Linked DNA regions of Homo sapiens. The protein of the gene in region 1 interacts with the protein of each later gene in a pairwise test. Each region holds a gene or a part of one and is shown in the gene's direction. Other genes may lie near its edges.

Region 1 (3,912 bases):
TAGTGCCTCGGGCTCCCTGCCTGATGGTCGCCCTGAGGTCACAGGGACCAGGAGCCCTCTCTGTCCCCCGCCCTCCCAGGTGCCGAGCAGAGAGATCGACAAGGCGGAGGGCAAGTTCTGGACACACTGGAACCGGGAGACCAAGCAGGTGAGTGGCTCGCCCCGAGCCTGGCTCCTTCCCACCCAGCCCTGGCGGCCCTAGCCCTGCCCTAGCCCCACCCGTGCCTGCTGAACCTTTCTCCGTCTCTCTAGTTCTTCCTCCAGTTCCACTTTAAGATGGAGAAGCCCCCGGCTCCACCCAGCCTCCCTGCTGGCCCCCCTGGGGTGAAGCGGCCTCCACCCCCGCTGATGAACGGTCTGCCCCCTCGGCCACCGCTGCCTGAGTCTTTGCCACCGCCCCCGCCAGGAGGCCTGCCTCTGCCACCCATGCCCCCCACAGGGCCTGCGCCCTCAGGGCCCCCGGGACCACCCCAGCTACCCCCGCCAGCTCCAGGGGTCCACCCCCCGGCCCCAGTGGTGCATCCCCCTGCATCTGGGGTCCATCCCCCAGCTCCTGGCGTCCACCCCCCAGCTCCTGGCGTCCATCCCCCAGCCCCTGGGGTCCACCCACCAACCTCTGGGGTCCACCCCCCAGCTCCTGGAGTCCACCCTCCAGCCCCCGGGGTTCACCCACCAGCCCCCGGAGTCCACCCACCAGCCCCTGGGGTTCACCCACCAGCCCCAGGGGTCCATCCTCCCCCATCAGCGGGGGTTCACCCCCAGGCCCCGGGGGTGCACCCAGCAGCCCCCGCCGTTCACCCTCAGGCCCCAGGGGTGCACCCACCAGCCCCAGGGATGCACCCTCAGGCCCCGGGGGTCCACCCCCAACCTCCCGGGGTCCATCCGTCGGCTCCTGGGGTCCACCCTCAGCCTCCGGGAGTTCACCCCTCAAATCCTGGGGTGCACCCCCCAACTCCCATGCCCCCAATGCTGAGGCCCCCACTTCCCTCCGAAGGCCCAGGGAACATACCTCCCCCTCCCCCAACCAACTGAGAAGCTGCTCCCTCCCCCAGCAAGCCCAGCGCCAGGTGCTCTTGCCTTTTCCCACTGAGAGAAGGCTGCTCTTTTGTACTGCCCCCCGCTCATTAAACAGCCTCCCCCAGCCCTGAGTGCACTGATGTCCGCAGCGCCGCCCTACTGTGTCAGTGTGTGTGGGAGTGCCAGGCACAGCACCATCCCCCAGTTTGGGCCGACTGGGGAGGGCCTGGGGCCCGCCAGGAGACACCTGTGGGAGGCCTGAGAGATGGCTGTACCTTGGAGATGGCCTGGTGGAGGACAGACCCCACCAGCCAGCTAGGAGGGGATCTGGGGTCCTGTTCTGGGGAGGGAAGAGCAGACTCCACGATATCCTTGGGGTCTCCAGATAGCCCACCAGGGGTGGGGAGGGTGAGCAGGGACAGGGCGCCCCCACTGACTTGGGACCCTCCTCCTCCAGGCCCACACCTCAGCACCCAGGACATCTGGGCCCCCCGCCCCCAGCGCTGTCTAGTTTGGTTGCCTGGCCGTCACTCCCAGCCTGGTTCCCACTCCTGTGTCTTCTGGGGATGGCCCTCAAGGACGGCATGTTGACACATCAGGCCCAGCTCTATCACTGGGGAGGGAGATAGGCTGCCAGGGACAGAAAGGGCTCTTTGAGAAGGCCACTCTGCCTGGAGTGGGGGCGCCGGGCACTGTCCCCCAAGGTCGCGGCAGAGGAGATAGGGGTCTGTCCTGCACAAACACCCCACCTTCCACTCGGCTCACTTAAGGCAGGCAGCCCAGCCCCTGGCAGCACCCACGATGCGGGACCTGCCTCTCACCAGCCTGGCCCTAGTGCTGTCTGCCCTGGGGGCTCTGCTGGGGACTGAGGCCCTCAGAGCAGAGGAGCCAGCTGTGGGCACCAGTGGCCTCATCTTCCGAGAAGACTTGGACTGGCCTCCAGGCAGCCCACAAGAGCCTCTGTGCCTGGTGGCACTGGGCGGGGACAGCAATGGCAGCAGCTCCCCCCTGCGGGTGGTGGGGGCTCTAAGCGCCTATGAGCAGGCCTTCCTGGGGGCCGTGCAGAGGGCCCGCTGGGGCCCCCGAGACCTGGCCACCTTCGGGGTCTGCAACACCGGTGACAGGCAGGCTGCCTTGCCCTCTCTACGGCGGCTGGGGGCCTGGCTGCGGGACCCTGGGGGGCAGCGCCTGGTGGTCCTACACCTGGAGGAAGGTATGTGGGGCCCAGCCCCAAGCTTGGCACCGCCGTCTTCCTTCAGGTGGGCCGGGTCCTCCTAGGGAAGATCAGGGGCTGGCAGAGCCCCCACCCTGGGCAGGGAGGCTGTGGTCTTGTTCCTAGGACTGGGTTGCGGGTCCGTGGCCTGGAAGGTGGGCACCACACTCTGTCCTGTCCCCGAAGCCCAGCTCTTAGACTTGCCCCTGCCTCGGTGCCAGGGAGAGAGCTGCTGCCTTCTCCCCACCCCTGAAGACGACGCAGGGCTCGGGGCCAGTGGAACCCTTCTTCCCACAGCCCCAGCCTGTTCTCAGGGCCGCTGGCCTAAGATACTCCCTGCGGGGAAGGGGCTTCATCGGGCACCCCAACCCAGAGACCCCAGGGCGGCAGCCCCACCCACAGCCTCAGACGCAGCCCCTGCCTGCCCCTGCCGTCACCGCTCCCTGGCTGCAGGAAGGCAGCTAAGAGGGGCACCCTTGTCCCCCGCTTGAGGTCCCCTGCACAGTGGCCAGAGCGGCAGGGACAGATCCCAAAGATTCCCGGGGGGTGTGGCCTTCAATGGCTCAGGCGTCCCCTGCTGTCCCGGCTGCAGTGACCTGGGAGCCAACACCCTCGCTGAGGTTCCAGGAGCCCCCGCCTGGAGGAGCTGGCCCCCCAGAGCTGGCGCTGCTGGTGCTGTACCCTGGGCCTGGCCCTGAGGTCACTGTGACGAGGGCTGGGCTGCCGGGTGCCCAGGTACCAGGGAGTTGCATGGGGCAGTGCCCGGGCCGTGGCGGGGGGCATGGATTTGTTGCAGGGTCTGCAGTACTGAGAACAGCGTAGAACCAGTGGCGATGGGAGGAAGGGGACCGGTAGAGCGGGGCTGGGTAAGCCTCCATCCAGCCGGGCTGAGCCCTGGTCTCCGCAGAGCCTCTGCCCCTCCCGAGACACCCGCTACCTGGTGTTAGCGGTGGACCGCCCTGCGGGGGCCTGGCGCGGCTCCGGGCTGGCCTTGACCCTGCAGCCCCGCGGAGAGGGTAGGTCCGCGTGGAGAGGGACGGGGAGCCGGGTCGACTGCCCCCGGGCCCCCAGCCCCTGAGCCAGCCGCGTGCCCACCCACCGCAGACTCCCGGCTGAGTACCGCCCGGCTGCAGGCACTGCTGTTCGGCGACGACCACCGCTGCTTCACACGGATGACCCCGGCCCTGCTCCTGCTGCCGCGGTCCGAGCCCGCGCCGCTGCCTGCGCACGGCCAGCTGGACACCGTGCCCTTCCCGCCGCCCAGGTGCGCGCAGGCACCGGGACACGGGGCAGGAGCGGGCGGGGGCGGCGTGGCCTCGTGGCCGCTCTCAACTCCTCCAATTGCGGGTTCCAGGCCATCCGCGGAACTCGAGGAGTCGCCACCCAGCGCAGACCCCTTCCTGGAGACGCTCACGCGCCTGGTGCGGGCGCTGCGGGTCCCCCCGGCCCGGGCCTCCGCGCCGCGCCTGGCCCTGGATCCGGACGCGCTGGCCGGCTTCCCGCAGGGCCTAGTCAACCTGTCGGACCCCGCGGCGCTGGAGCGCCTACTCGACGGCGAGGAGCCGCTGCTGCTGCTGCTGAGGCCCACTGCGGCCACCACCGGGGATCCTGCGCCCCTGCACGACCCCACGTCGGCGCCGTGGGCCACGGCCCTGGCGCGCCGCGTGGCTGCTGAACTGCAA
Region 2 (3,812 bases), on another chromosome or scaffold:
TAGGAGGGTAAGCATTATGACAGTGACAGCTCCATCTGCCATCACAGAATCACAGCGAGTGCCACGTGTGATCATGGCATTTAAGAAGGCAGGCATGAAAGCATACAGTAGTCCCTCTTATCCATGGTTTTGCTTTCCAGTTTCAGTTACCTATGATCAACCTCTGAAATAATAATGACTCTAAAGCAGAAGAGTACTGTGCCTAATTTATAAATTAAGCTTTATCATAGGTATGTATGTATTGGGAAAAACATAGTGTACATAGGGTTAGGTTCTATCTGTGATGTCAGGCATCCACTGGGGTTCTTGGAACGTATCCCCCAAGGATAAGGAGGGACTACTTACTTTTATTTTTCTACTCTTTCCCCCCCAAGTCAGATTAACTCATAATTATCCAGATCTTAAGAACAATGTGACTTTAGGCAAGTGACTTAAGCTGACTTTGCCTTGTTTTTCTCATCTGAGAAATGAAGATAATGCTACTCATTTCATTGGGTTGTTATAAGGATTAAACTATGCTGATGAATGTTAAGTGCTTAGTATTACGTGTTTGTTAAATTTGTTAAAATAAGTAGAATGATATACTACTAAGTAGTATTTTCTAAACATCTGTTTCCCAAACCTGTAGTCTTAATTAAGCAGCTTCTTGACAGCTCAGACATAAATTCTCAGGTATCTAGTGCCCAGTTGCCAACTGAGTGGTTATAGTTGTTCAACACAAGCTTTGAAAAGTGATGATTAAGATTGGACACTAGGAAAGAAGTAGAAAATACTTCCAGGTCCATAAAGTAATTATTGCACAAAATTCATGCATCAAAGTTAAGCACTTTATTGGCAGAAGAGTTCCAGCATTTTCCTCCTTCATGGCCTATGTTTTTTTTGAGACATGCTCTCACTCTATTGTCTAGGCTGGAGTACAGTGGCACAATCTTGTCTTAAAGTCATATCGTTCTTAAGATCTCAACCTCCACCTCCCAGGCTCAAGCAATCCTCCCACCTCAGCCTCCCTAGTAGCTGGGACTACAGGTGCATATAACCATGCCTGGCTAATTTTTGTATTTGTAGAGAGAAGGTTTTGCCGTGTCACCCAGGCTAGTCTTGAACTCCTGGGCCGCAGCAACCTGCCTGTCTCAGCCTCCCAAAGTGCTGGAATTACAAGCTTGAGCCACTATGCCTGGCCCTAATAACTCTTAGTTTGTTCAACAAATATTTATTGAATATCTTGCTCTACTCAAGAATTTTGGAGTAAAAACTCAAGGACTTGATTAGCTAATTTTCGGTTTTTGCATGTTAGCAGTAGCAGCTGAGTTACAGGAAAGTTGTTAGGGTTGGCCAAGGTAAAGAAAAGAGATAAATGAACCCCTGAGAAAGCTCGGGGGTACCCCAGTATACTGCAGCCCCCTACATTATTTTATTATGAAGTGCTGTAGTTGATGTTCATAATCATAAAACTTTACCTCCAATAGGGAGGGCCCTTGAGTGTTATCTAATTTAGTTTTCTTGTTTTGCAATAGATAAACTGACCCAGAAACATTGAGAACACATTAAATCATGTTCTATAGGTTGTTTGTGGGAAGTTAGCCAAGTGTATATTGCCTTTTAGAAAGCTTTCCATGCAAGCTAGTTGTAAAGTTTGGTACCTAAAAATTTTAGCTACTATTTTTCCTGCCTCTTCATTATGTAAAACACTTAATGATATGAAATAAATGAGCATTATCTCACGTAGATCTCTCCTCAGAGATTAAAGCCTATCACAATAAATATAATTACAATGAAAATATTTAAGAAAAATATAATCACGATTTAGCCATGTGACCTTGGGACTCTACTACCTGTTCTATGAAATGATAATGATAATTGTCCCTCCCTGTATGATGACTAGTTTTTTAAAAATTTTGGTAAAATACATAAAACACAAAGTATCATCTTAGTCATTTTTAAGTGTGCAATTCAGTAGTGTTAAGTACATTCACATTGTGTAACCATCACCACTGTCCACTTCTAGAAATTTGTTATCTTTTCAAACTGAAACTCCATACCCATTAAGCAAATTAATATCTTCTGTCTTTATGAATTTGACTATTTTAGGTACCTCATAAAGTGAAATACAGTGTTTGTGTGTGTGTGTGTGTGTGTGTGTGTGTGTGTGTGTGAGTGTGTGAGACTTCTGGCTCATTTCATTTAGCAAAATGTCTTCATTTCTTTTGAGTGTATATTCAGAAGTTGAATTGCTGGATCATATGATAATTCTATTTTTAGGTTTTTCAGGAACTGCTATACCATTTTTCATAGCAGCTATACCATTTTGCCTTCCTGCCAGCAGTATACAAGAGTTCCTATTTCTCTGCATTCTTTCCAGTGCTTTCTGTTTTTTTTCTTTTCCTCTTAATAGTAGCCATCCTACTGGATGTTAGGTGGTATCTCTTTGTGGGTTTGATTTGCATTTCCCTAATGATTAGTGAGTCGAACGTCTTTTCATGAGTTCATTGGCCATTTATCTTTTATCATGGCTTACTTTTGATATAACTAGTTTAGATAGAATGACTAGATTTTCACATATAATCACATATGTGAAAGTCCTGAGAATTATAATGTCTTATATAAGTGAAAGTAGTGACTATGGCTGTGTTAACATTTTTTCTGAAGTTAATAAAACTCCACTGAACAGTTAAAAGAGGCACAATTCGAGTTCTGTATAGGAAGTTATTTGTACAGTTGGAATTCGTTGTGCTCAAGATTTAAGACAATTTTGGAATACATGTGTATGTGGCTAGCATAAGGCCATAGCAGACAATACTCATGACATTGAGATAAGTAACCAAAAAGAGAACAAAATTGATTACATAAAAGGAAAAACTTCTGTATGACAAAATATTTTATAAGCCTTATTAAAAGACAGACTTGGAAATGCTGTTTAGCAGTGAATTTTAATAGTTACTGTCAGAATAATTTAAATGCTGAAAGTTTTATTTCTGATCTCATCTACTTTGTGGAAATGTACATCTAGGTGAACACATTTAAAAATTTTCGTATGTATTTGTCATATAAAATTCTTTTAGCATAAGGAAATATGTAAAAAATTACATTAGTTTCAAAAATATCTTTTTTAGATGGAAGAATATATCTTTGTTGGGACAAAATAATGCATCTCTTCAAGAATTATGGCCATAAGGAACATGTTCTTAAAGTAGATTGTTACCAATGGTAAAAAAATATTTACTAAAATGGTTACAAATGCAATGTTGATATTAGAAGTTTATGCAGTGTCATTATAAGTGAGTAGCCTAACTTCAAATGTTTTATTTTGTTCAGTCAGGTCAATTCAGTGAAGATATGATACCCACAGTGGGCTTCAACATGAGGAAGGTAACTAAAGGTAACGTCACAATAAAGGTAAGTTATTTCTTGCCGTACGCAATTTAAATTGTTAGCACAGACCCCTAGAAATTTTTCTGTTAAATTTCTGTGTTTTTACTGAAAATTTGCAGTTTTTCAGTAATGAATGTGCATGTTTCAAAAGAATAGGTTTTTTTGTTGTTGTTTTTTTGTTTTTTTTTTGGAAACAGAGTTTTGCTCTTTCACCCAGGCTGGAGTGCAGTGTCGCGATCTCCACTCACTGCAACCTCTACCTCCCGGTTCAAGTGATTCTCCTGCCTCAGCCTCCAAAATAGCTAAGATGACAGGCTTGTGCCACCACACCCAGCTAATTTTTTGTACTTTTAGTAGAGACAGGGTTTCACCATGTTGGTTAGGCTCGTCTCAACTCCTAACCTCAAATGATCTGCCTGCTACGGCCTCCCCAAAGTGCTGGG

What was found.
Region 2: the proteins of AMH (region 1) and ARL8B interact in a two-hybrid assay, tested with the Homo sapiens proteins (one large-scale study listed by BioGRID and IntAct).

Annotation. Positions count from the first base shown.
Region 1 is NC_000019.10:2,247,515-2,251,426, forward strand, and holds the start of AMH (muellerian-inhibiting factor preproprotein), read left to right. Parts: upstream 1-1,808; 5' UTR 1,809-1,818; coding exon 1,819-2,230; intron 2,231-2,822; coding exon 2,823-2,965; intron 2,966-3,124; exon of another isoform or gene 3,125-3,137; coding exon 3,138-3,246; intron 3,247-3,334; coding exon 3,335-3,494; intron 3,495-3,584; coding exon 3,585-3,912. Other genes in the region: SF3A2 (splicing factor 3A subunit 2), read left to right, coding at 80-148, 253-1,032. UniProt on the Homo sapiens protein: Plays an important role in several reproductive functions. Induces Muellerian duct regression during male fetal sexual differentiation. Also plays a role in Leydig cell differentiation and function.
Region 2 is NC_000003.12:5,167,191-5,171,002, forward strand, and holds part of ARL8B (ADP-ribosylation factor-like protein 8B), read left to right. Parts: intron 1-3,312; coding exon 3,313-3,393; intron 3,394-3,812. UniProt on the Homo sapiens protein: Small GTPase which cycles between active GTP-bound and inactive GDP-bound states.